4 linked regions of the Homo sapiens genome follow. The main gene of each other region encodes a partner of the protein of the gene in region 2 in a complex. Each region holds a gene or a part of one and is shown on either strand. Other genes may lie near its edges. The genes, in order: RAMP1, CALCRL, RAMP3 and GNB1. A codon is read from its position in the direction of its gene.

Region 1 (7,066 bases), about 51 Mb from region 2:
GAGGACAGTTTTATATAGAATTTATTTTTCACTTCTTGTTTTTTGTTTGTTTTGTTTCTTGGGGGAATAGGGGAGATAGGCAACTTCTGTTCTCAGCTACTTGCAAGTGTGTTGGTTTTAACAGTGGGACTTCCTGCAGGACTTGAAAAATTGATAGTTGATGAACCTGAGTTCCCTGAGATACTGCTGTTTTTGTTAGTGTTTATCCAGCAATTGCACGATTTAAACAACTCACAGAACTAAGTTGTTATTGCTTATAAGCATGTTATCTTCAGAACCACTGATTCATTATTGATAATGATTGAAGTTCAGCCTTTAAATTGCAGGCCTGATAGTGAGGACACCAGTGGAGTCTTCCCCTTCATATCAGCAAGTTATTGAAAAACTATCTGTAGAATATTTGATGCTTTTTTCCTTCCAGTACTTAAAAACGTTCCATTGTATTCTGGTGGCATTATATCCCATGAGAACTCTTCTGTCACCCTTACCTGTGTTTTGTACATCAGCAGTCCCTAGCCTTTTTGGCACCAGGGACTGGTTTTGTGGAAGACAATTTTTCCATGGGGTGAGAGGGGGATGGTTTAGGGATGAAACGGTTCCACCTCAGATCATCATTCTCATAAGAAGTGCAACCTAGATCCCTTGCATGAACAGTTCACGGTAGGGTTAGATCAGCTACTGCTGATCTAACAAGATGCGGACCTCAGCTTCACTAGCTCACCCGCTGCTCACCTCCTGCTGTGAGGCCAGGTTCCTAACAGGCCATGATCTGGTACTCCTGTGGGGTTGGGGGACCCCTGCTATACGTAATGTCTTCTCTCTCTGGCTGCTTTTAAGGTTTTCTCTTTATTACTGGCTTTAGGCAATTTGATCGTGATGTGCTTTCACATATTTTTCTAAATGATTTTTGTGCTTGGAGTTTGGGGATGTTCTTGGCTCATGGGTTAATAGAAAATGTTCCACATAGTGGTTTTTCACATATTTCCCACCCATCTTCCTCCAGGGGCTCCAGTTACACCTTAGAGTTGCCACCTGGAGTTGCCTCATGGCTCTCTGATGCTTTGTTCTTTTATTGTTTTTAAGTTACGGGATGTAATAGCTACTTGGAAATCATTTGCTCCTGTTAGTTCTTGCTTTTAAGTTTTGTTAGGCAGCACCAGAATAGCCTTTGTAATTTTTACTGACTACAGAGAGGGACTTGCCCTTCTAATTATGCTCTGATGTTCTGTGTATTTCAAGATTTTTCCACTATGGTTGGTGGGAACTGGAACTATTCCCAGCTGGGTGTGGGCTCTTAGGCTCTTTTCCCTTGGGTAGTGTCCTTAGATGTGTGGGCTGAGACTCAAGTGGGACCCTCTGTGATCTCGCAAGCGCATTCTTTGCGCAGCTCTTTCCTCTCTGGTACTATGCCCTGCCAGCGTTAACTGCCTGGCTTCCCCAGACTCTCTTTGGGTTTCCTTTCTCCATCTGTGGTCTGCAAACTCCAGGCAGTGAGCAGTTGTAGCACTCACCTTATTTGTTTCCCTGCTCTCAGGGGTCCCTGCACTTCTTGTGGTCCACTGTGACAACTGTTGTTTCATACATTTTGTCCAGTTTTTTAGTTTAAGATGGGAAGGTGAGTCCAGTCCCTGTAACTTCATCTCGGCTGGAAGCAGGAATCTTATGTTAATAGTGAATTTTTAGCAGTGTTGACCAGGCTTTGATTGTATCTTTAGCCCTACTGTGTATGCAGTAAAGCACTTGGCCATTTTCTAATCTCTTCTATTGTTTAACCTAATGCCCCTCTAGATTGAGGTACCCTGGGAGAGGAATGATTTTCCATGCTACCTATGACCAATTAGAAATACAGATACATCAGACTACAACTTTTGAAGACGGGAAGCCCATAGTAGTTGCTAAGGAATGTCTTACTTAGACCCAAGGTACAGACAGGAAAATCATTAGGAGAGAACATGCCTCTAGGTGTGTGCCTTACTTCAGCATTCTCCAGAGAACTGTGAATTTCTAAAGCATGTGAACTTGAGAAATAGGCTTTGTCTTCTTAGGAAAATGTATCCTTTAGGGGGTGTTGAGAAAACAGCAGTGACAGGGGCCTCTGGCCTTGCCTCCTTGCAGTCAAGCTTCAAAGAGAAAACGTTGGGAAGAAAGACTCCTGCTGAGCCTGATGAAAGAGGAGTCCCAGTTGCCAACCAAAAACATGCAGCCAAAGTCCACAAGCTACAAGTAGAAAGGGTGGCTCAAGCCAGAGTCCCTGGATATGGAGGGCGAGTGATGGCTGCAGAAAGATGCAGGTTCTTCTCCCCCACTATGACTGGCCATCGCCTAGTGCAGGATGTACGGTGGCCCTGTCCCAGGGCTGTGCTGGCAGCCACCCTTCCCCACTAGCTGTGCTGCTCTCACATGGCACGGCCTCTGGCTGCCAGGCCTGTGCTCGGGCCTGCATTTCCCTTGTGCCCTTCTCTCCACCCAGCCCTCAGGACTGCCTGGGCTGCATTTTGTCCAGAATCCTTTGTCTCCTTACTTGCACTGCAGCTGAGGCGAGTGTCCCTTGTTCCGGGTGGCTCCTGTATTGTGGCGCTCATGTTATTGAGAGTCTTAGAGGTCACCCCCTAGATTCACCAATTGAAGGGCAGGGCTTGTCGATCTAACAGTGTCTTGCACATAGGGACACAAATGTCTGTTAAATGAAGAAAGTAGGGATGCCAGGCCACCCAATGGGGTGTATCTCCTAGGGTTCAAGAACAAGGGCTAATCAAGTCAAGAGAATGTGTGCCCTCCCCCACCATCTCACCCCTCACTCTCAGAACACTTGGGGCCCCTGCACAGGTGGTAGGCATGCTGGCCCTGAGTGCCCTCCCAGCCTGTGTTAGAAGAACCAGTGGATGACCTCGCTGTCAGCTGTCTCCCCTTCTCTGAGCTTACTGCAGGTGGCAGCAGCCTCTCAGCCACAGACTGTTCCCTTTCCTAGGAGAAAACGATGGTCACTCAGCAATGCTGTGCGCTTGCAGCTTCCACCACAAAAGAGACAGCTGTGGCCGCAGCACCAGGGTGGTGATTCTTCCCCCTCCAAGGGCAGTGGTGCATTCCTTAGCACAAGTATAAATTTACTGTTGCTAAGAGTTCTCGGAACAGGATAATACAAGAAGGAACCACTGCAAGTGAAATCCAGCCACCAGTAATGCCGAGAGGCCAGGCCTGTGCCTCCCAAAACCTGCTCCTCCGCAGGCTTCCCCGGCCCATCTCCAGAGCGCCCTCCTCTCACCACTTTACATAAACGAATGTACCCAAGATCCCCCATCAGTTTTCCATGCAGCTGCCAGAGTGCCACCAAAGCAAACCTCATCTCAAGACTCTGTGGCCAGGCCCTCACAACCTCCTGCCAGGCTCTCGCTACCTACCCATCAACAGCAAGACTCCCAGGCCATCTCAATCCCCCCAAAGAGCCCTGTTCCTCCAGCCCCACGGCTTCTGTTCACCTGCCGTGCTGTCCCCGCCTCTGCCCACCCACTCATCCTGCAGATCTGGAGCAGCATTCCAGGGCCTGGTAAGTGTGCGCCATTTTGGGTTACTACGGGTCTCGCCAGGCGCGGTGGCGAGTTTTGCCCCCCACGCTCCCCAGCGCCTGCACCTGGGCGGAGAGGTAGATAAGGCTGGGAGATCTTAGCCTTTTGCAAGGCAAACACCAGGCAGGAACGCCCAGAACCTCGGAGGAGGAGGAGGGGAAGATCCCCAGGTGGAGACCAAGGTGCCCCTCACGCTGAGTCGTCTAGGAGACCCTCCCTAGTTTAAAAAGTGTTTATTTGCTCGGAGAACATTTCAGGAGGCCTTCCTGGGACCCCAAGTGTGCCGCCCCCCGGGAGGGGCCTGGAGACGCCCGCGCGGCCCCCCTGCAAAGTTTTACCGGCCCTGGGCGCCCCCGGCCCTGGCACCCACGCGGGGAGCCGCAGTGGGCCGGGCCGCGCGGCCGCCGCCTCCCACCGCTCCCGCGCCCGCTCCCGCCCCCGGCGCGTCTCCTCCGGGCCCGCGCCGCGGCGGGCTCAGTCCTCAGCGGGGCGCGTGGCGAGCGGACTCGACTCGGCACCGCTGTGCACCATGGCCCGGGCCCTGTGCCGCCTCCCGCGGCGCGGCCTCTGGCTGCTCCTGGGTGAGTAGGTCCAGGGGTCCCGGCCGAGCTCCCTTCCCCTGGCCAGCCGGTGTCCTCTAGGGGAGAGGAGGGGAGCGGGTGGGAGCGGGTGGGAGCGGGTGGGGGCGGGCGCCGCGGGCGCACAGATCCGCTGCCCTTGAACGCGGGCCGCCCCGGTTCCAGGCGGGAGGCCCCAGGGCACAGGGGAGGCGGAGGGCGCGGACCGGTGTTGCGCTTCTCGCCGGGGAAGGGACGGCTTTGGGGACGTCGGAGAGCGGGCATTCTGGAAAGCGTGGGGTGAGTCAGCCCTGCACACTGGAGAACTAGTTTTCAGAAGGAAAAACAGGACGCGGGGTTCCCCAGCCCCGCACCTCGTTTCTCAGGCTGTGCGCCGCGGTGACTGCCAGCGCAGGCTCCCTTCCCTAGGCCGTCCCGCGTTGCAAAACCTGCAGACGGGCACCTTGCAGAAGACGCAGTGTTCGGGAATCAGAACCACAGCCGGTTTGTATGGAAATTAGTCAACACTGACAATCTGTCGCCTGCAGCAGTTGCTTGTTTGCAAATCACGTCTTTTGCAGAAATGAGGCCAGCCCTTTTCGGGACACTTCCATCGCTTTTTTTCTTTTTTCTTTTGGTTTGCTTGTTAACTTGGCACTTTTGGCTAATAGAAATTTAAAGAAGGACGGGTCCCTTGGTGAAGTGGTGGAACACGTTTGGCTTTCCACTTGGAGGGAGAAGTGGAGATTAGCGGCAGCCTCATGGCCACAGGAACTGGCCACACACTCGGCAAGAAACGGTGCTGTTCACTTCCCTTGTCTGTAATGTGTTCCTAAAATGCTAACTCAAGCCCCTTCTAAACCGCTTTGGCTATTGCATTATTCCGTGTATTTAGCTACCTTTTAACGGAAACTGTGAATAGGTTACTGGCGTGGGAGAACCCAGTGTCCCTGGGAAGGCCGGAGCAGTTGTTTCTGGTATGTGTGGCCTTTCCCCGGAAACAGTGATGTTGGTCAGAGGCACCTGCCGCACAAGACCTCTTTGGCGCTGGCACTGGGCAAGCAGGGACCACCGGCGCTGTTGTAGCTGGGGGAGTGGTTCGTGGCCCAGCGAGGAGAGGGGCCAGGGCTTCTTGGGAGCCATGGATTTCTGTTCCCTATTTGTAAACCTCTCCAAGGGGTGGCAGATCTGCATAGAATCCTCAGAGGCCGATATAATATAATCTGAAAGCGGATCTTGCCACTTTAGAGTTTTGGCTGAAGTTACGTGGAAAGCAGAATCTCGCAGTAATTTTATTCTCTCCATTTGGCTTGACATGGCCTTCACTGTTTTCATTTACTAAGAAACAAACATTTCTTTGTTAGCAAGGCAGAGAGCTGGGTTGTGGAATATTTTTTACATAAATAACCAAATAAATAAACGTTCTTTACTAGTGTCCAGAGGCTGAACCCTCTAAAGCTTGTGTAAATAAAACACTATGTCACGATCACATATAAAGACCTTCCTTGTTTACCGAGAAAACTATTCATGTTCTGCCGAAAGTCCAAAGTCCTGTAATTTTAACGTTATTTTGAGTGGCCTGGCTAATGTTATCTCTTGGAAGAACAAACAAAACTTTATGAGGTTATCAGTAAATTAATGTCATTGGAGCCCAGCTGTAATTAGTAGAATTACTGAGCACAGGCTGTTTCCTTCCCAAGCTGTAGCACTAGCCAGGTCTCCTTGGTGATGAAGATTTTGCTACCAAGAATGGCAATGTGGAATTTTTTTAAGTACTCTAGTTTACAGGTTTAAGAACTTATCTGTGACAATTTTACAATCAAGCTATTTGTCTTAGGTAGTTATTAAGAATCTCATAATCCGGCCAGGCATGGTGACTCACGCCTGTAATCCCAGCACTTTGGGAGGCTGAGGTGGGTGAATCGCCTGAGGTGAGGAATTCAAGACCAGCCTGGCCAACATGGTGAAACCCCGTCTCTACTAAAAATACAAAAAAAATTAGGCAGGCATGGTGGCAGGCACCTATAATCCCGGCTACTTGGGAGGCTGAGGCAGGAGAATCGCTTGAACTCAGAAGGCAGAGGTTGCAGTGAGCTGAGATCATGCCACTGCACTCCAGCCTGGGTGATAAGAGTGAAACTCCGTCTCAAAAAAAAAAAAAACTTAGGATCCATATATAGTTCTTTTCCCTCTGAGCATCCTGTGTACTCTTCTGTTTACTGGAGACTCTACATGCATTCTGAAAAGTTTGTGTATAGACACCGAAAAGCTGTTCGTTAACCAGGAAAGAAGGATGCGTTAGAAGCCCCTGGTTTTTCGAGTCCATCTTCACTCAGGGAATGCTGGCTGGTGCTGTCACACATGAACTCAGTCACCTGTCCTAGGAAACGCATGCCTTCCTTGGCTGTCACGTGGGAGCCAGGGGTTTTTTTAATGGCTGCAACATTAATTGAAATGTATGACTTTATATAAATACAAGTAGAATTGGAATGACAGGGACATCACAGGAAATGCTATGTGACTGCTTCAGATTGCCATGCGGTTTTAAATCTGGACACAGTTCTCATGCCAAAGTCCAAATCTGAAGGATTCTTATTTGTTAATCAACTCAGTGTGTTTGTTTACCCTCTCTGTGTGTCTAGCTGCAGGAAGAAATTTCTGGATTTTTGTCTTCCTTCCACAGGCGCATGCCTGTCAGCGTGCTTATTACCAGTCCGAGGCCAGGGCTGTTGAGAAACATTTATATCCACAGTGCAAATGGTAGATTCAGCTCCGGGAAATGTTTTAGGTGGAATCTTTAGTTAAGGCTAGTTGGAAAAGTCTGTCCTGATTTTTTTCCCCAGAATGCGCCCATTTCATAGCTTCTAATCAGTTACAACTGGCGTCTGGCTGACTGTGTGATGCAGGTGCCATGTGTAGTGTGAATTCCAGCGGAAATGCTGAGCC
Region 2 (5,816 bases):
CATGGAAAAGTCCTCAACGTACTTGAGCTAGAGATGTATTTAAATGTTCTCATTTGTGCCCATTGACTGACAATGAAGAAAATTCACTCTTGTGCCTTACATTCCATTATGACCAATATTTTACTGTATAGGACCCACCTACCCCTGATCTCTAGCTTCAAACAGAGGGGAAGGAAGTCATTAAACTGCAAATTTATTCAGCAGAAGAGGATTCAAATATATAAAAATGGAGTGGTTACATTCCTAAATTTATTTTTCACAATATTCACCAGATTTATAATTATTTGTTCAACACTTTTCTTTCCTCTATGTAGTAAGCTCCATGAAGACAAATATCATGCTCCCTTTTTTAGAATGTAGCACAATTTCTGGCATATGGGAGTCACTCAGAAACAAAGGTTGCTGCTACTGCCCTGCTGCTGCTGCTGCTGATTTGTATTCTTCGTATCCTAACTTCTTTTCTTTTGTGTATCTTTCGCTTATCCTGTCACGAATTGTCTTCTCATTCTATTAATAAAGACATTAATATAAAACTCAATGTTGCACATGAAATCTTGTAAATGGGGGTCCAGATTACCTATTTGTTTGGCAACAATAAATACATATGAATTATAAAAGCTTTGAAGACAAAACATGCCATGAAAAATATTAATGGAATGTAAAGTACAATGTAATTGTAATACATTTCCTAATGTGAAGATGGTACACTTAATTTTTTAAATTAAGAAAATGAAGCTATATTATTCACTGATTAACATAACTTTTTTTAAAAAAGCTCTTCTCCAAGACCTATTTAATTGTGCTTCAAAAACAGTGTCTTCATTTCAATTAATGGGTTGTTCTTGTTCTTTCTGTTTTCCTTTTGATTGATAGGTTCAAGCAATTCTGAGAAGAAACTGGAATCAATACAAAATCCAATTTGGAAACAGCTTTTCCAACTCAGAAGCTCTTCGTAGTGCGTCTTACACAGTGTCAACAATCAGTGATGGTCCAGGTTATAGTCATGACTGTCCTAGTGAACACTTAAATGGAAAAAGCATCCATGATATTGAAAATGTTCTCTTAAAACCAGAAAATTTATATAATTGAAAATAGAAGGATGGTTGTCTCACTGTTTTGTGCTTCTCCTAACTCAAGGACTTGGACCCATGACTCTGTAGCCAGAAGACTTCAATATTAAATGACTTTTTGAATGTCATAAAGAAGAGCCTTCACATGAAATTAGTAGTGTGTTGATAAGAGTGTAACATCCAGCTCTATGTGGGAAAAAAGAAATCCTGGTTTGTAATGTTTGTCAGTAAATACTCCCACTATGCCTGATGTGACGCTACTAACCTGACATCACCAAGTGTGGAATTGGAGAAAAGCACAATCAACTTTTCTGAGCTGGTGTAAGCCAGTTCCAGCACACCATTGCATGAATTCACAAACAAATGGCTGTAAAACTAAACATACATGTTGGGCATGATTCTACCCTTATTGCCCCAAGAGACCTAGCTAAGGTCTATAAACATGAAGGGAAAATTAGCTTTTAGTTTTAAAACTCTTTATCCCATCTTGATTGGGGCAGTTGACTTTTTTTTTGCCCAGAGTGCCGTAGTCCTTTTTGTAACTACCCTCTCAAATGGACAATACCAGAAGTGAATTATCCCTGCTGGCTTTCTTTTCTCTATGAAAAGCAACTGAGTACAATTGTTATGATCTACTCATTTGCTGACACATCAGTTATATCTTGTGGCATATCCATTGTGGAAACTGGATGAACAGGATGTATAATATGCAATCCTACTTCTATATCATTAGGAAAACATCTTAGTTGATGCTACAAAACACCTTGTCAACCTCTTCCTGTCTTACCAAACAGTGGGAGGGAATTCCTAGCTGTAAATATAAATTTTGTCCCTTCCATTTCTACTGTATAAACAAATTAGCAATCATTTTATATAAAGAAAATCAATGAAGGATTTCTTATTTTCTTGGAATTTTGTAAAAAGAAATTGTGAAAAATGAGCTTGTAAATACTCCATTATTTTATTTTATAGTCTCAAATCAAATACATACAACCTATGTAATTTTTAAAGCAAATATATAATGCAACAATGTGTGTATGTTAATATCTGATACTGTATCTGGGCTGATTTTTTAAATAAAATAGAGTCTGGAATGCTATATTTGGTAAATATTTTAAAGACAACCAGATGCCAGCATCAGAAGTCTGTTTGAGAACTAAGAGAACAGAAACATCTATCATAAGATATATTTATTTTAAAAACACAAGGTCACTATTTTATTGAATATATTTGTTTTGATAACTCATACCTTAATAATAGGTGTGTTTGACATATTTCTTTTTTCATTTTGACAATGAACTCACATTCTAATCCAGAAATTTTAAACAACTACTGTGATAAATACCAATCTGCTACTTTTATAGATTTTACCCCATTAAAATATTACTTTACTGACTTTTACTATGTGAAGATATATAGCTTTGGAAATGTCCCAGGCTATTCAAGAAATATAAAAAACTAGAAGGATACTATATATACCATATACAATGCTTTAATATTTTAATAGAGCTACTGTATATAATACAAATTAGGGAAATACTTGAATATATCATTGAGAAAAAATTATTGTCAGATCTTACTGAATTATTGTCAGACTTTATTAAATAAAGATAGAAGAAAACCTTGCTAATGAATTAAAGTGAAATTTGCATGGGATTCAGTTTCTCTAATGTTATTTTCCGCTGAAATCTCTAAAGAACAAGAATGACTTCAATTAGTAAAAGTCAATTTTGGGAAAAGTCATGGGTATCTGTTTTTTAAGTGTGTCAATCTGATTAAAATGGATGAAACAAATTACTCATCATAAGTTGTTTCTTAAGCTGTCAATATGTCAATAGATGGTGAGTTCAGAACTTATTTCAAATTGCTAAGACAAATTATCTAAATTCGTAAGAATTAACATATAGAATGGTCTGGTCAGTACATTTATAATTTATCTATGCATGAAAAAGTATTGTTTTGTTTGAAACATGAATTTCATAGCAAGCTGCCATAGAAAGGAACGCAGGCTGTTCTAGACCTTCAACTGCCTAAATTATACAAAAATTCATTTTAATAAACTCAATTATTAGCTATTTATTATTCAAAGACCCATATTTAAATCCTTTGCTGACCATGTTGACATATATCAGCCTTCTTCTAGACAAACTGTCAACTCTCAACCATCTTGACAGTAGAAGTGACAGTAAAAAATGTTGAATGATCAGAGATTATATTAAAATAAACATGTAATTTTCAAGTATTTTTGTTGTGCTTTTATAATATTAATTCTAGATCAGATTTATTTTATAGCCAGGGTTTGTCTGTTGTAGAGTCTTGAGGCGTAGCAGTCATTCATGATTAATCACTGTTAGTTTTGTACCCATATATTTTTAGAATAGTTTTAAATGTTAGATTTCTCAAAAGCTAAATGCTACTTAATATCTTTGTATCATACTCATAAAGCAAAGTAAATCTGACACTTTTTTTAAAGCAAACTTCTTTGCTGTCAAAAAAATAAATTTGGGGAAATTTCTAGCTTTTAAAATGTAGATCTGCATTTTACTGTGATTACTTGTGAAAGTCATATTTTAATTTTCTAAATTCTAATTTGTCATTTTATTTCCTAAAGTTAATTTCCAATGCATTTATTCATAAAATATTCATTCTGGAATGCAGTGTTTGTTTAAATGTAATCCAATGTATATAGAATTAGTGGTGGCTGTAGTGCTGTATTTATTGCTTATAATTTTTTTTAAATGTGAACTTACTTTTAATTTTCTCTTGGTTTTAATCTGCTAGTAGAAACCACTAGTTATCTGTAAAAATATATTCAAGATATTCTGATCAATTATAACAATTTATGTTATGCCTAGAGTATATCTCTATTTTTTGATTGTATGAAAATATTAAAGTTATGAGTTAAAGTTTATTTTCACTGATATTTACTACAGTGCCAAATAATCTAATTTATAAACATAATTCTTACAGTAATCAATGGGATACTTCTCAAAATTAACAAATCTCTTAACAAAATATATCTTTTGCCCTCTTTAAAGTCTTCAGTAAACCAGTAAATGAATTCAATAAACCAATTAAGAAAAAGTCATGATTTGTTTTTCAAACTAAAAAAATCCAACTATACTACAATGGATGCAAACTCCTTCTTATGCTGAAAGAAGAAAAAGGATGTCTCAAAATAAGAAAATGTTCAGAAATTCATCTCCTTTATCTACTATATTTCATTTTGTAGTTTTGTTTAAATATTAGAAAGAAAAATAAGTATTTAAAGGTAATTTTTAAAGAGGGCATATTCATGGCTCTCACACAAATATAAAATGAAAATGTTTCAAAGATTTCGTTTAACTCATTAATTAATGAAGGAACAAGTAAGATGTTACAAAAATTCAAAGGAGAATTCAAAATATCACACTATATGAGAATATTAAAAATGTTGAAATAAATTTATAAATAAGTGCAAAACCACTCTATCCTTAGGGCAATAATCAGTTGCATTCCACTTAATAACTAATTTTTATTTTTATGATCAATAATAATGTACATCATTTTCTGTTTTCTGGAGAAAATGCCCATTTAAAACACTTGTGTTTTTTTCTTATAATCTCTCCTCCTTGTGATTATACTAATCTCAAAGAAAGAATATTCTTGATTAAAAATATTGCTAGTTTAATAAGGTTTGGCCTATTGTTGAGATAGGTACATGAGAGTGTTAATTACAATATAGACCTCCTCAAGTTGGTTTTACAAATCTAGAACCATAGTGCACTTTTTAACAGCTTCATTGAGATATACTTGACATATCATATAATACTTCATATTCAAAGCAGTTTTTAGTATATTAGTAGAGTATATTTTAATACATCCATAGAGACACGCTACCATCACCAATTTCATTACATTTTTATGACCTTGAGAAGAAACAGTGTATCCTTTAGCCATCACTTCTCTATCCCTCTATCTCTACTTTCATTTCAGCTATAAACATCACTAATTTACATTCTGTCTCAACAGATTTCCCTATTCTAGACTTTCATATGATTGTAATCATATAGTATGTGACCTTTTGTGACTAAATGATTTCACTTATGTTTTTAAAATTCATTCATGTTTTGGCATGTATCAATGTTTCCTTTTATTCCATTGGGTGAACATACCACATTTTATTTATTCATTTGTCTGTTGATGGATATGTTTGTTTTGCTTTTACCTTTTGGTTATTATAAATAATATACCTATAAACATTTGTTTGCAAGTTTTTGTTTGTAAAAAAGTTTTCATTTCTTTTCAGGACATTTGCAAAACAGCCAGATCATTTTACATTCCCACCAGCAGTGTATGAAGGGTTCTGAATTCTCCATTTTTCTCAACACTTGTTATTACCTGTCTTTTTTATTTTAGACATCCTAATGGATGTGAAATGGTACCTGGTAGTTTAATTTTCATTTCTCTGATGGTTAAAGATGTCAAGCATCTATTGGCCATGTGTAATCTTTTTTGGAGGAATATTTATTCAGATTATTGGTCCATTATTAATTTGGTTGTCTTTTTATTATTGATATATATATATATCAATATGTATATATATATAGTCTCACACACTCACATCTGCAAATATATATGTATAGGTCTCTTTTCAGATAATTTGCAAATACTTTCTCCCATTCTGTGAATTGTCTTGTCCCTTTCTTAATTGTGTCCTTTGATGCATAAAAGGTAACAATTATTTATTAAGTACATTTTTTTCTT
Region 3 (7,027 bases), on a different chromosome or scaffold from region 2:
CCTGTGTCTTCCTCTTGCCCCCTGGAACCCAGATGGCAGGTCCTGAAGACAGGAACCAGACCCTCTCCCTCTCCCCTTGTCCAAGGATCCAACACAGTCCGCAACACATGATAGCGGTGGTCCAGGATGTTTTGCTAAATCTTTGGATAAATTTCACTGGGTTGACAGTGGGTACTGAGCCACCATCTCCATGTGCAGACCCTGTGGGACCATGTGGGGGACCTGTGCTACATGCAGGGATGGGACAGACACAGAATGAGCACATGGCCTTTCTGTGAAGAGAGGTGAGCACCCCAGAGGCTCACTCAGGGGTTGGGGCCCTAAGTGGGATGTGTGGCCTTTCAGAGAATCCAGGCCTGCAGCTGTGCTGATGAGACAAGCGAACGTGGGGGTCAGGGACATTCCAGGTGCTGGAAACCATGCAGAGTGGCCAGAAGGCCCTGAAACACCTGTTCTGGGAGAGCCAGTCACTGACCCTGTGTCCAGGGGCCATGGTGGTGACTTCACCCAGCCTGTGTCCTTGCCATCTGCTTACACATGGCAGCAGGCTGACCACTGAGCCACAGCCTGTGTGCTTCCCATCTCCAGGGTTCTCTGGGGCCTCAAGATGCCCTGGGTCCTGGGGAAGCTTGCATGGACAGAAGGGGAGATGTGAGTGCCTACACAGGCTTCTCAGACCACCTGCTGGGACCTGCAAGTCCTCTGTCCAACTTTACCAGCTGTGACCCCCAGGGGCCCTTCTCAGTGCTGTCAGCCTGGATTCTGAGGTATAGGTTTGGGCAGTCACGAAGGGAAGAAGGTGCCTTGAGTCTGGGAACCCACGACCCTGAACAGCTGGCAAGCCCTTTTGTGTTCTCCTCTGTGGGGTTCCAGCTAACACCTGTCCTCTGTATGTGCTCCAGGTGTTCTGCTGCAGGTGGGGGTGGGCTGAGCATGACAGTTCCCTTAACCCTGGGATCTGGACCCCTCCAGCCTTCCTTTGGCCTTAGACAAGCCACTCCCTTTTGCTGGCATCAGACGCTTGTTCAACCAAGGGGCTTCCAGGGTCTTCCCTAATGTTAGCATTAAGCAGGCTATGACTCTTGAGGAGTGTCTGGGGCGCTGTGTTCTGGTGGAGCAGGTCCCTGCACCAGAAAGTGGTCCTGTCTAAACCTGCCATTTCCATATTAAAGTGACTTATTCAGCACTTGCTCAGTGCCCAGGGTGAGCCACACATGGAAGAAGATCAGACTCTGAAATGCTCACTGCTTTCTCTATCATTCAGCCAAGACTTATTGAGGGAATGAATGAATGATACGTTCCTGGAGGTGGCACTGAGCATTTCAGACTAAGTTAGCCAGCTCAACCTCCTTGTGAGGTGGGGCCTGTATCCCTCATCTTGCGGATGGGGAAACTGAGGTTGAGCTGGTAACCAGTGAAGTGTGGGTGTGAGCCAGGTCTGTCCCATGTCAATCTGGAACCATTTTCTTATCTGCTTCTTCATGGTATTTCCTCTAGCCCAGCACCAGCCGCCGGAACACAGATGACAGGGCTGTGTACACACATGCTCATGTATGCATACACATATGCACTAAGATATAGATGGCAGGGCTGTGTACCTACACACACACACACACACACACACACACCAAGACACAGACAGCAGGGCTGTGCGTGCACACACACACACACACCCGAGACACATATGCCTGGGGTCTCTCTTGAGTATATGATGAGCACCAAAGCAGAGGTCAGGTGAGGGAAGTTTAGGAGCAGGGAGGTCCTGTCGTCTGGAAATGGGATGACCGTGGAGACAGGCCCTGAAGGACAGGGGGCATTGCTCAGTGGGAGGGAGGATGTTCCCCATGGGGAAATGTGTGGAGCAAAGGCATGAGGAGGAAGGGGAGGGGATGTTTTGGTGGGCAGAGGTTGGGAAGGGCAGTGGGGAAATCCTGGGACAAGCAGCTTGTGTCAGACCCTGAGAAAGTCCAAAGGACTCATTCCCATTGCTGGGAACATGAGTCCCTGCAGTGGCCTCAGCCCCTGGTTTCCCAGAATTGGAGGGGGTCTTTGACCGGGAGGGGTTGGTCTTTACTGGCCTGGAGCCCTCCTCTGCCGCCCCTGCAGGCAGTGGGATGGTCCCCAGGTCTTAGAGTCCTCAGGATGTTCCCAGGCCCCTGGGACTCCTAAGCTGGAACTGGAGCCTCTTTGCCAGCCCTGATCTGCCTGAGACCCTCTCACCACCTCCCAAGGAGTTTGGCCCAGGGTCTCACTGCCTGATCCCTGCCTGTGCCACTGCCTGTGAGGCGGTGAAGTGAAAAGGTGGACTTGTCCTGTCTTGGGGACAGGTCCCTGTGTGGAGCCTCCTTTCTGCACTGACAGGTAGGTCAGGGTGGAGGGTGAAGGACTCCGCTGGAACGGTCTCAGGCTTGCAAACGGAGCCTTGCTAGTGAGTACTCAAGTTATGGCCCCTTGGGCCTCCCCTGTCCTGGCATCCCCAGTGTGAACTGTAGTGGAATTCTTATGGCTGTCCCCTCTCCAGGTGGGTGTCCCAGAGCAGGCGGCTGCAACGAGACAGGCATGTTGGAGAGGCTGCCCCTGTGTGGGAAGGCTTTCGCAGACATGATGGGCAAGGTGGACGTCTGGAAGTGGTGCAACCTGTCCGAGTTCATCGTGTGAGTGCCACTGCTGGGCGTGGGATTTGCTCTGACCACAGCGCTGCCCACTGCCCAACCACTGCCTGACCACAGCCTGACCGCACTCTACCCAAGGCCTCACCCATGCCTCACCCACAACCCACCGTAGGCCACCCACAGCCCTTTCATGTGCTGCCCCACACTTTGCCCAGGGCCCCAACCACGCTCCTATTCACACTCTGCTCTTGGCTCTGGCCACCCCACCCACATCCCCCTGGCACATCACTCACGGCCCCGCCCATGCCGTGCCCCTGCCCACGGCATTTGTGCTCCCCACACCCACAGCGGGTTCCCAGCTTCCTACCCCCCATTCCGCATCCTCACTCTGATGTTCTAGCAATTCTACACTGTGCCTCTGCTTCTCCCTCTCCTCTGTTATTTAGGAATCCTCCCCATGCCTGCTTTTCCTCCTGATCCAGATTAGTGCCCTGCCCTGGGAGTGTCCAGTTCGGGGGTTCCCTGGCCTGGGGGTGCCCTGTCTGGGAGGTGCTCTGCCTGGAGGGTGCCCTGCCCGGGGAGTGTCCAGTTTGCGGGTGGCCTGGCCTGGGGGGTGCACTCTCCCAGGGGTGGGTGCTGCCCTACCCCAGGGGGTGCCCTGGCCTGGGGGATGCCTTGCCTGGAGGGTGCTCCACCTCTCCTTACAGCTGGAGCTGGGTGGACATTGTCATGTGTCTTTCTTACAGCACCAGTCATGGCTGGGTCTGTCCTCAGTGGTCAGAGGACTTAGAGGAATTGGGTTCCAATGGTTTATATCAGGTGTAATTGTGGACAACACCTCATAGTGAAGGGAGGTCCCCTTGTTCTAGAAGCTTCCCAAGCTTTTCATCTCCTTACCTCCTTGGAAATTGCTCATGGCCTCACAGTCCTCTGCCCCACCCCACTCCACCTCTGGCTTTGCAGTCTTGTGCCACCCCCTGGTGGCTGCTGCCAGACCCTAAATGTGCTGGCCTCATGCTTTTGCATGTTAGCACCCCAGCCCCTGTCTTCCGTAGAGACACTGACCATGGCCCTGCCCCAGGAAGCCTCCCCGGCCCTGGCCATTCTAGTGGCCCAGCAGATGGGGGCTTCTTGAGGCTGTCACATCTGCAGCCCCACTCTGTGGGGGAACTGCTTGCTGAACCAAGTGGAATGGAATTCTGAGTCTGCTGGGAAGGGGTGCTGGGATTCAGGAAGGGGTTTTGCAGGCTCCTCCTGGTCCTCAGTGAGCCTGGACACAGGCCTGGAATGGACCCACTGGTGGGGGTGGAGTCAGGGAAGAGGAGGTCATAGCTTCGTAGCTTCTGGTCTTGCTCCTCTCTGTAACCCGCTAAAGCCTTGGTAAAGAGACTAAATAGAGATGTCCAGCCGTGGATTGGGAGGACAGGAGTGGAGGCAACCCGATGGGCATTTAGGAGCCAGTGAGTGAGTGGGCAAGAGCCACTGACTGAGTGCCCTTGGTGAAGTCAGACCTGATGCTGGAAAAGGGGAGCTGGGAACAGCCAGGTTGACATTGCGGAGCCCTCCCACGACCCGGCCGGCAGCACCAGCTCCCAAGAGAGTGGCAAGAGTAGCTGAGAAGCAGTGAGGTGTCCAGAGCCCTCCTCCACCCCAGCTGGACACTGGAGGTGTATTCTTGGAGCTGGTGACACCAGGGTTTCTGGGCCTTCCCATGTAATTGAGAACGTGGCACAGTGTCCCAGAGAGGGAGGCTGGAGAGAGCGGCTGATACGCATTATCTTTTGCCACTGGGTCCAGGAGGGTGGTCTAGGGTAGGATTGGAGCTGTCCTTTCTGAGGAGTGAGACCAGCCAAGAGGAAGGACCTAGAAGCAGTGACCCCCCCAACCCCTGGAAGCTCTGGGGACAAGCTCTTCTGCAGGGTCCCAGTGTCTCATCAGCTCTCAGTCCCCACTCCCAGTCACGAGTCACTTCCAAGCAGGGTCCCTGGAAATCTGACCTAAGGCTCTGACCCTGAAGGACAGAGACCAGAGAGATGGAACCAAGCAAACCCGGGGGCCATGCACCAAGAAGAAAACTGCAAACGTCACGACTGATATCTTCAGAGGGCAACAACTATCTCTCATGTGATGAATGAGAACAAAGAAAGAGGTTTAGAAATGGAAGATGCAATAGAAGTGAAATGGAATAGAAAGGTTGGAAGGGAGATGTTGAGGAAATCTCCCAGGAATAGGAGAGAGAGACAGAGAAGATGATCAGGAGGTCAGTGGTCAGTCCAGGCGTAACACCAAGATAGTAGGAATTCTAGAAAGAGAACAGGAGAATGGAAGGATAAAGGGCCCTTGCCAGGGGCTGAGGGCATGAGCTTGCAGCCGGTGAGGGCTTGCCCGGTACTAGCACGAGGGAGGAAAATGTCCCACATGGACCCTGGAATATCAGAGCTGTGGAAACAAAGGAAAACTTCTACACCTATCCAGAAGGAGGAAAAAAATGAGCTCTAGGTTGGAGATGAGGGGATCAGAGGCCTTCAGGCTCCCCCACCGCAGCCCTGGAAACCGAGGACTGTGGGATGCAAGGACCTGAGAATTTCGGACTGTGATTTCTCAGCTAGTGTGCTATTTCCCGCCAATTTGTCCACTAATTAGGGAGAAACGAAAATACTGTCAGACGTGTGGCACCTCCAGCATCTGATTCCCACATACCTTTCTCAAGCTCTGGCGGCTGTGCGCCAAGGTGTGGAGCAAACCACGACAAAAGAAGCTATGAGATTTGGGGAGCGGAGCCAAGGCAGGAGAGGGAAGCCCCAGGGAGGGCGGTGCCCCAGCGTGGCAGTACACCCTGGGTGGAGGCAGCCTGGCCCAGGTGGAGGGCACTTGATGCTTACCTGACATGGTGACTGCCTGCCCATGCCCTGCAGCCCAGCTCAGTCAAGAATGAAGGACACTCCTTTCTTTCCCCTGAATGTTCATTCTGCTTTGGTCCCCACTGAAGCAGGGTGGGCCTTGGTGAGCTTAGAGGAGAGGTGGCTTGCTCCCCTCAATAGGACTGGTCCACATGACGACCCCATCAGGAGTCGAGTCATGGCTGGGAAGACCCTATTCCCCAAACTCGCCCATGGCCTGCCTGTGGCCTTCCCTGGGGAGGAGTCTCATTGCCCCTCGGGGCAACCAGAGCGTGTCCTCTCCTGGGAACCTCCCTCCAATAGCAGCAATGGGCTCCTTCTGTACCCAGTTAAGGAGCATTGCTATGGGATTTCCAAATGCAACACTATATTGCCTGGGAACACACTCAGGTGGTGAAACATAAAGGAAGGTGGGCAAACACCCCAGAGGTGGGTGGGGGGAGAGGGAGTCTGACTGGGGGGTTTGCCCGGCTTCCAGCCTGCTGGGCTCCTCTCCTTCCCATCCTGGGTTGTGGTGCATCTTTTTTAGGGAGAGTGCTCTGGGGAGCCTGACTGAAGGAGGAGTGGAGAGGCCCCAGATTATCCAGGGGATGAATAAATCATAAGTAGTTCCCGGTTTTCTAGAGAAGCACTGAATGTGGACCTCTCTAGATATGTGACAAAAATGCAGATTTTGTGGATCCACAGAGATGGGTGCTGTGCTCAGCTCTGCCCCAAACCTAACAGCTGGGGTGGGCTCACCCCATGACCTCCTCTGTGCCAGGCACTTGCTGGGGCACATGGACCTCAACTCATTTGGTTCTCTCAACCACCTGATAGGATAAGTGTTATTAAACCCACTTACAGATGAGGAAACTGAGGTCCAGGGAGGATAAATGACATGGCCCATACCACAAAGATGGTGAGTGGCTGAGCTGGAGTTGGAGAGGCCCTGCCATGTTGGCTCTGCAACCTGAGCCTGAAGCCACTGTCCATGCTGTCTTCTGGGATTACCTCTGCTCCGTGGGCTTCTCCATGTGGCCTAGCTTTGGCTGGGAGTGGGGTTTGGGAACAGCAGGGGCTTTCAGCCCTGCCTCACCTCCTCTTGGGACGGTTCTGGGGCTAGACATCACTCCTCTTGCCCTGTAGACTCGCTGTCCACAGAGGGTCTTCTCCAGGGTCTGTCTGGCTCATCTCAGCCCTGGGGATGGTTGTTGGGGGGTGGCATTCCTGGGTAGCAGTTCAGTGGAATGACTTTGGAGGCACAGAGGTTACCGCATGTGATTCTCATCACACACATAGATGCTGGGAACTTCTGAAGGTGAAGGCTGTTGCAGGGTGTTGTTAGACGGCTCCCCAGCTCCTGGATCAGCTGGCGGGGGGTTGGGGTGGACAGCAGGCTACTGAATCTGAGGCCCTGTGGGAGAAGCAGGTCAGGGAAGATGAGGGTTTGTCCATGGACCTAGCTGTTGAGGTGTCTCTAATGCCTGGGCATGTCTCAGGTGCTGCATTGTGGCTGAGGCCCAGGAGAGCCAA
Region 4 (7,027 bases), on a different chromosome or scaffold from region 2:
TGGCTTTGCTGTCTTTGGGTCGGCAGCCATGCTGGGTAGAGCAGTGTGTGCACCCATGCTGTGCTCTTCCCAGAGCCTGGTGATCTGCTCCTTTCTAGACTCTGGACTCACTCTATCCTTGAGGCACCTCTGCTGACACCACATGCCCAGGAGCCCATCTTTCTCCTACGCTTCCACTCTCTGCCGTGCCTCTCTTCAAGCCACCCCCTCTCTCCTGGACTTTAACAGCCTTGTCCCTATAGCCAGTGGTCCCTATGAGACACAGGACAGCCCTTCACACCCACTGCCTATATGACCAGACCACTGCGAGGTCCCCAGGCCGCGTTTCAGCCTCTCCTTGAGGCACTTGGTGCCACCTTTGTGCCCTTGCACCTCCTCACTGGGTGCACACTTTTGTTCAGGGTCTGTTTTCCCTGCCCCTCTGCAGGCTTCCAGAGGGTGGCAGCACAGGCCCCCGCACCAGGGGAGGAGGGGCGTGTTTTCACCTGAAGTGTCCCCCCACACATACCCAGGGAATTTGTTCAAATTCAATAATAACAGAAATAGTAACTGTCTCCATTTACTGAGAACTTCTTATGTGCACAGACAGCTCTGCTCCTCCCATCAGTTCCCCAGTTACATGGGGAGGCTGGGACTTCTAAAAGAACTTAGAGGAATTTTCACTCTTCCTCAGCTGCCATGCTGACAGTGGAGCCCAGGTATTTCTGATTTCAGAGTCTGCAGTCTTCACCACTCGTGGCCTCTTGGCCAGAAGGCCCTACGAGGCTTTCCTGGAAGAAGGGGTTAGACCTGGTCTCTGTTCACAGACTGGGCCTCATGGAGTATGCTTGCACCCTGGGCATTGCACCACCCATCCTGCTCTCCAGCCGCACTGGACACACCTCACCCCCCAACCTGAACATGCACAGACACTTAGAGTGGCCTCTGGTTGGGCAGAACCATCTAACATAATACATATCTTATAAGAAAAAGTTGAACATCTCATGTAAATTATTGGACACTCCTGAAAATGAAAACACAGAATAGTTGTATGGGTACTTGGAGCATGGTTTTCCTATTAAATGCGTGTGTCTTTCAAACCATCATAAAGTCACAAAATTGTAAGTCAGGGGCCATGTGTGGCTTATACATTCGGTCATTCCCCTTGTCCTTCATAGTTCCTGTCAGCTGATGCTTGTCCACATCATTTTATCAGCGCTTGAGAGCTGTGATTTTAGGGTTCAGTCTCTGGTTCTTGGAGTAAGAAGCTGATGGATTCTGTGTAGCTTCACTACAGCCTGCACAGGGTGGGACAGAGAGGTCATCTTTGAGACCTATGAGGTCATGTTTTTTGTTTTTTTGAGGCAGAGTCTCACTCTGTTGCCCAGGCTGGAGTGCACCGCTGTGAACTCGGCTCACTGCAACCTCTGCCTCCTGGGTTCAAGCGATTCTCCTGCCTCAGCCTCTCGAGTAGCTGGGATTACAGACCCAGCACCCACCACCACAGCTGGCTAATTTTTATATTTTTAGTAGAGACGGGGTTTCACCATGTTGGCCAGGCTGGTCTCAAACTCCTGACCTCAGCCTCCCCAAGTGCTGGGATTACAGTCATGAGCCACCGCGTCCAGCCAAGGTCATGATTCTTTCATGCAGTAAACTTGGGAGTGCCTCCGCCTGGTCCCCTGTGTGAGATGCAGGCTGTGCTGAGGTCTCCATGACTCTTCTTTCCTGCCCTTCTGTGCTCACATTCAAACAGGCTAAGTGCTACAAGGCTCGGTGGCCTGGTCTGGATGGGCATCTGACGGGGTGGGGGTGCTTCCCTGAAGCAAGGGTGAGTGTGAACCAGGAAGCCAGTGGAGGAGGGCTCGGGTGGAGACCCGGGAGCATGACAGTGAGCTGCGGGGCACGACAGCAAGCTGCAGGGCACTACAGGGGGCGCCAGGTATGCAGGGCTATCCTCCTCTGAGCTGGACTTGGGTTCACCTTTGTGGTCCCTAGTGTCCCTGTGGTGTGGCCTCCAGGAAGTATTTGACCACGCATACTTTCGTAGGCACGTAGTTAATATTTTGAGCTCTGTCATCTATGCATATTTTTCTTCTGTCAGAGCCAGTTTAATAATGTTTGTTGGCCAGGCATGGTGGCTCACGCCTGTAATCCTAGCACTTTGGGAAGCCGAGGTGGGTGGATCACAAGGTCAAGAGATCAAGACCATCCTGACCAACATGGTGAAACCCCATCTCTACTAAAAATACAAAAATTAGCTGTGTGTGGTGGCGTGCACCTGTAGTCCCAGCTACTTGGGAGGCTGAGGCAGGAGAATCGCTTGACCTGGGAGGTGGAGGTTGCGGTGAGCCGAGATCACATCACTGCACTCCAGCCTGGCGACAGCACGAGACTCTGTCTCAAAAAATAGTGATAATAATGTTTGTTAAATAAATGCTTTGTTTTCTCTGTAATCTTACACTTTCTACATTAAAACCCCAGTGGGTTTCTTCTTTTGGTGCATTTTATTTTTGTTGTTTGCTGATTCACGCAGTGTCGCATGACTCCCTGGGGTGTAGTTGGGGGGAAGGCTTTTCAGTAAACACTCAAATCTAAACAGGTATCCCAAGAATCACCAGTGCCACTGGAACCCCTGAATCTTCAGATTAGGGCCAGTCTGTCACCAATCCTGGGCACACACTAACTGGTTTGTTGACCCTATGCTTTTAGTTCCACAGTAAATACCAGAACTGTGATCAATGTACAAAAGAAATAATGGTCAACAGAAGTCATTAACAACTTGAACTGCCGGGTTCAAATGATTCTCCTGCCTCACCCTCCTGAGTAGCTGGGATTACAGGTGCCCGCCACCACGCTTAATTTTTGTATTTTTAGTAGAGACCAGTCATCATGTGTGGATATTGCGGACTGATTTTTTGTTGTTGCTTTTCCTCATTTTGGAAGTTGTTTAGGACGGGGCATCTTGGTGTGTCCTGCTCTCGCCTCTGATGCTTCCTTCCCAGTGGGAGTGGGTGGGAATACTCAGAGACACAGAATTGTGCCCACGCTGATGTGGGTGTCACAGCCACTGTCCCCAAGAAAACAAACCCACCCACACATATTCACGAGCACCCCCGTGTCTGCAGTGTTGCTGCCATGCCGCGTTCCTGTTGCCTTCGTTATCCCTTCCATGACCTGCAGGCCCTTGCCACCCTGACCCTGTGGCCTCGCCGCCTCCTGCCCTGGCTGGGCCCTCTGTTTGGATCCTCCTTCTCTGAGTCTACTCTCGTCCTCCCTCCTCTCCTGGCTTCCATCTTGTGAGGCCCCTACTTTGTCCTCTTCCTTCCCCTAGCACTCCCTTTCTGATGTCCTCTTTCAGTGATTCTCATTCTCTGTCCCTGCTGAGCGTGGGCTGTAGGAGAGCAGGAGGTGTCTGTCTGGTTAAGGCTGCTTCCTGGGCACTGGAGTCAGCGTGCCCTGAATGAGTAAATAGACGAGGGATCCCCAGCCTTTGATGGGTCAAACAGTAAAGCAGATGAAAGATGTGTATGTTTCATGGGTGTGGTTTCTGCTTCTGCCCCCATCACGGAGCTGTGGGTCTCTGTGGGACGTGCTGTCCTGCCTGGCCAGGCTCTCACCCTCACCAGCAGTGCGTGTGGACCTTCTGCTGTGTGCACAGATGGGAATAAAAGGTCACTAGCATGGTGCTGGTCTTACCTTAGACGTAGAGCTTCCACCGGGCCAATGTGTTTCTCTATGTATGAGGCTGGGTGCAAGGCCTGCTGGATTCAGCTCATCACTTAGGCCTGTTCTTTGCCAGGTTACCTGTCCTGCTGCCGATTCCTGGATGACAATCAGATCGTCACCAGCTCTGGAGACACCACGTGGTAAGTACCTGACCCGGGGCAGGCAGTGCCTTGAGAACCCACAGCCCCTGGCACATTCCTCTGTGAACATGGAGGAAATAAGGTTCTTGACATAATATTAGGCCATCTGTAATTTAAGTGGCCTTAAGATTTAAAACACATAGTAGCAATGTGTGAATTCATTATACTTTTTTTTTTTTTGAGATGGAGTTTTGTTCTTGTCACCCAGGCTGGAGTACAATGGCTCAATCTTGGCTCTGCGACATCTGCCTGCCGGGTTTAAATGATTCTCCTGCCTCATCCTCCTGAATAGCTGGGATTACAGGTGCCCGCCACCACGCCTGACTAATTTTTGTATTTTTAGTAGAGACCAGGTTTCACCACATTGGCCAGGCTGGTCCTGAACTCCTGACCTCAGGTGACCTGCCCACCTCGGCCTCCCAAAGTGCTGGGATTACAGGCGTGAGCCTCCGTGCCTAGCCTCATTATACTTCTAATAAATTTACAAAGTTTAATTTTCAGCAGCTGAGAACTAAAATACACATTTTTTTCTTTTTTTTTTTTTTTTTGAGATAGAGTCTCTCTCTGTCTCCAGGCTAGAGTGGAGTGGCGTGATCTCGGCTCATTGCAACCTCTGCCTCCCAGATTCAAGCAATTCTCCCCTCTCAGCCTCCCGAGTAGCTGGGAACTACAGGTGTGCGCCACCACACCCAGCTAATTTTTGTATTTTCAGTAGAGACGGGATTTCACCACGTTGGCCAGGATGGTCTCTTATCCGTTGACCTCGTGATCTGCCTGCGTCAGCCTCTGAAAGTGCTGGGATTACAGGTGTGAGCCCCCATGCCTGGCCAACATAGATATTTTAACTACAATCAGGCTCAAAGTACCTGCTCTTCTTTTTTTTCCCCTCTATATATTTGTACCTCCTTAGGTGATGATAGGTGGGAGTAGGGTGGGTTTTGATTGTCCCTTTCTGATAGCATCATGTCATTGTGAACAATGAGCACAGACTAAAAATAACAGACGTCACAATTCAAGTGATTCCATCAGACTTCATTTTTAGTGTTTTCACCTTACAGGTAAACGGAAGCCCACTTAAATGCTAGAATTTTTTCATTTGTGGCATCAAAGTACTAAATTAAATGTCCAGATAGTTATTTTATGAGAGTCATTTTAGACTTCAGCTGGCCATGTGGGTTTTTCTGGTCTTCTGAGGCATGATTTGGTGGCAGGAGCTGTGCCCAGCCCAGGGCACAGACCCCTAGTCACGCAGTTGGTGGGGTTCACCGAGACATGGGCCCTTAACCAACTTGTCAGCAAAGCATCTGTGGTATTATAAGGTGTCCTCGTTGTATAAATTTCATAGATTTACAAAAGATTTGTCACCTAGATTGTCAATCTTGAGAAGACTTTATTTATTAGAAGATATTTTTAAAGTGCTTCTGTTCATTAATCATTTTTTTCAGACTCTTTTACGTATCTTGCTTCCCTTCTGCAGTCAGTCCCTCAGGCCCTAGAGAGGAGGCTCCCTGTGCAGTGTCTGTTGAGATTGGCTGATTGGATTTGCATTGCCAGGCCCAGCCAGGCTTTCCTCTGAGGCTGACATGAACGGACAGTGCTCTCTGGTGTTGCCTTCCATGGGTCGAGGCACAGGAGAATAGTATGTTGGTGGGCGTGTGGCCCTCACAGCTGTCCTTACACCTGAGCCAGGCTTCTGCTCTGTGCAGGGCTCTGTCAGCGTCTCACCTTTTGACAGCTTGTTAAGCAGAAATGTGATAGAATACCAGGTATGGCCGGGCGCGGTGGCTCATGCCTGTAATCCCAGCACTTTGGGAGGCCGAGGCGGGCGGATCACCTGAGGTCAGGAGTTCGAGACCAGTCTGACCAATATGGAGAAACCCCGTCTCTACTAAAAATACAAACAAAATTAGCCGGGCATGGTGGCGCATGCCTGTAATCCCAGCTACTGGAGAGGCTGAGGCAGGAGAATCGCTTGAACTCGGGAGGCGGAGGTTGTGGTGAGCCAAGATCGCGCCATTGCACTCCAGCCTGGGCAACAAGAGTGAAATTCGGTCTCAAAAAAAAAAAAAAAATACCAGGTGTGATCACTGAGAACTCAGCTGCTCTCCTGTTTGTGATTCCAGGAAAGGGCAGGAGGACCTCAGAATTGCTGTGAGCCATTTGTTTACCTGGCATTGGCCTTCTCCTGCCTGCCTTTTCTGAGACCCTGTGGAGGGGAGGCCAAGGGAGGGCACAGAGGGAGCAGCCACAGATAGAGTCGCGTCCCCTCCGCCATCCAGGGCCTCCACGTAGCTTCCTGCCACCCCTTCCATGCCCATCCATGACCAAAGAGGGGGCACAGCCTCAGTGGTGCTGCTTGAAAAGTGCCCCCAGCTCCCTGTTTGCTGGCATTTGAGTTGAGGTAGCGATCCCGTCATTCTGAAGCCCAGGCCCTGTGCTCATCTCTGTATAATTTTGCTTGCTTTGCTTTGTTTCCCTTCCAAAGTTGTATTACATTTAAATTTGTCTTTAAACAATTTACGTTTTTAAAGTAACAGTGCAGAGGCTCACTGTGGCCCTGGGTGGTTTGAAGGACAGATTGTCTGTCACATGACTAGCCACCCAAGAAGTTAAGGCTGATGTCCCCTTGTCATTCGCTCCTGCTCCAGTGCCCTGTGGGACATCGAGACCGGCCAGCAGACGACCACGTTTACCGGACACACTGGAGATGTCATGAGCCTTTCTCTTGCTCCTGACACCAGACTGTTCGTCTCTGGTGCTTGTGATGCTTCAGCCAAACTCTGGGATGTGCGAGAAGGCATGTGCCGGCAGACCTTCACTGGCCACGAGTCTGACATCAATGCCATTTGCGTGAGTCTGGGTGGAGGTGTGGGGTCGGGTCCTCTGCCGTCTCTGCTAGCCGTTCAGATTGCTAAATTTTAAACTTTTCTGGATTAGATGTTCTCCTTTCTGATCCTTATACAACCTCATGTACAGATGGGGATACAGAAAACTCCCGATGGGAAACTTCTCTGTGTTGACCACTTGTCTCACAGATACTCACAGGGTGTTGTATGCCAGTCCCCGTTCCCACCTCTACAGCTGAGCAGTGGTTGGGATCCTGGAGGGGAAAGACAGTAAGATAACTCAGGCCACCAGTGGTTACAGAGCCTTACTGGTCAGGGGCACAGCTAACCAGG

Evidence for each region.
Region 1: the proteins of CALCRL (region 2) and RAMP1 are in contact, whole or in part, in a cryo-EM structure (PDB 6E3Y), measured with the Homo sapiens proteins. Residues at the interface, in NP_001258680.1 of Homo sapiens: Asn39, Met42, Thr43, Gln45, Tyr46, Glu47, Tyr49, Gln50, Lys51, Ile52, Met53, Gln54, Thr68, Trp69, Asp70, Gly71, Arg113, Arg119, Thr120, Phe228, Leu231, Ile235, Thr239, Val243, Ala244, Gln250, Trp254, Tyr255, Leu258, Phe262; in NP_005846.1 of Homo sapiens: Trp59, Ile63, Tyr66, Arg67, Ala70, Phe83, Trp84, Pro85, Asp90, Phe93, Leu94, His97, Gly98, Phe101, Arg102, Cys104, Pro105, Ile106, Ser107, Gly108, Arg109, Ala110, Val111, Arg112, Asp113, Pro114, Ile118, Leu119, Phe122, Ile123.
Region 3: the proteins of CALCRL (region 2) and RAMP3 are in contact, whole or in part, in a cryo-EM structure (PDB 6UVA), measured with the Homo sapiens proteins. Residues at the interface, in NP_001258680.1 of Homo sapiens: Arg38, Asn39, Met42, Thr43, Gln45, Tyr46, Glu47, Tyr49, Gln50, Met53, Trp69, Asp70, Ser117, Arg119, Thr120, Phe228, Leu231, Ile235, His238, Thr239, Val243, Val245, Lys249, Gln250, His251, Trp254, Tyr255, Phe257, Leu258, Phe262; in NP_005847.1 of Homo sapiens: Trp56 (codon at 2,629), Cys57 (codon at 2,632), Leu59 (codon at 2,638), Phe62 (codon at 2,647), Ile63 (codon at 2,650), Tyr66, Glu67, Thr70, Cys82, Tyr83, Pro85, Asn86, Pro87, Leu88, Gln90, Ile93, Thr94, His97, Arg98, Cys104, Thr105, Val106, Asp107, Arg108, His110, Leu111, Glu112, Asp113, Pro114, Val118.
Region 4: the proteins of CALCRL (region 2) and GNB1 are in contact, whole or in part, in a cryo-EM structure (PDB 6UVA), measured with the Homo sapiens proteins. Residues at the interface, in NP_001258680.1 of Homo sapiens: Lys167, Ser168, Ile394, Arg397, Asn398, Gln401; in NP_001269468.1 of Homo sapiens: Arg52, Phe292, Ala309, His311, Asp312.

What each region holds. Positions count from the first base shown.
Region 1 is NC_000002.12:237,855,584-237,862,649, forward strand, and holds the start of RAMP1 (receptor activity-modifying protein 1 isoform 1 precursor), read left to right. Parts: upstream 1-4,039; 5' UTR 4,040-4,092; coding exon 4,093-4,144; intron 4,145-4,313; exon of another isoform or gene 4,314-4,624; intron 4,625-7,066. UniProt on the Homo sapiens protein: Accessory protein that interacts with and modulates the function of G-protein coupled receptors including calcitonin gene-related peptide type 1 receptor (CALCRL) and calcitonin receptor (CALCR). Required for the transport of CALCRL to the plasma membrane.
Region 2 is NC_000002.12:187,341,457-187,347,272, reverse strand, and holds the end of CALCRL (calcitonin gene-related peptide type 1 receptor precursor), read left to right. Parts: intron 1-873; coding exon 874-1,089; 3' UTR 1,090-5,309; downstream 5,310-5,816. UniProt on the Homo sapiens protein: G protein-coupled receptor which specificity is determined by its interaction with receptor-activity-modifying proteins (RAMPs). Together with RAMP1, form the receptor complex for calcitonin-gene-related peptides CALCA/CGRP1 and CALCB/CGRP2.
Region 3 is NC_000007.14:45,174,788-45,181,814, forward strand, and holds part of RAMP3 (receptor activity-modifying protein 3 precursor), read left to right. Parts: intron 1-2,521; coding exon 2,522-2,654; intron 2,655-7,027. UniProt on the Homo sapiens protein: Accessory protein that interacts with and modulates the function of G-protein coupled receptors including calcitonin gene-related peptide type 1 receptor (CALCRL), calcitonin receptor (CALCR) and G-protein coupled estrogen receptor 1 (GPER1).
Region 4 is NC_000001.11:1,790,066-1,797,092, reverse strand, and holds part of GNB1 (guanine nucleotide-binding protein G(I)/G(S)/G(T) subunit beta-1), read left to right. Parts: intron 1-3,781; coding exon 3,782-3,848; intron 3,849-6,496; coding exon 6,497-6,698; intron 6,699-7,027. UniProt on the Homo sapiens protein: Guanine nucleotide-binding proteins (G proteins) are involved as a modulator or transducer in various transmembrane signaling systems.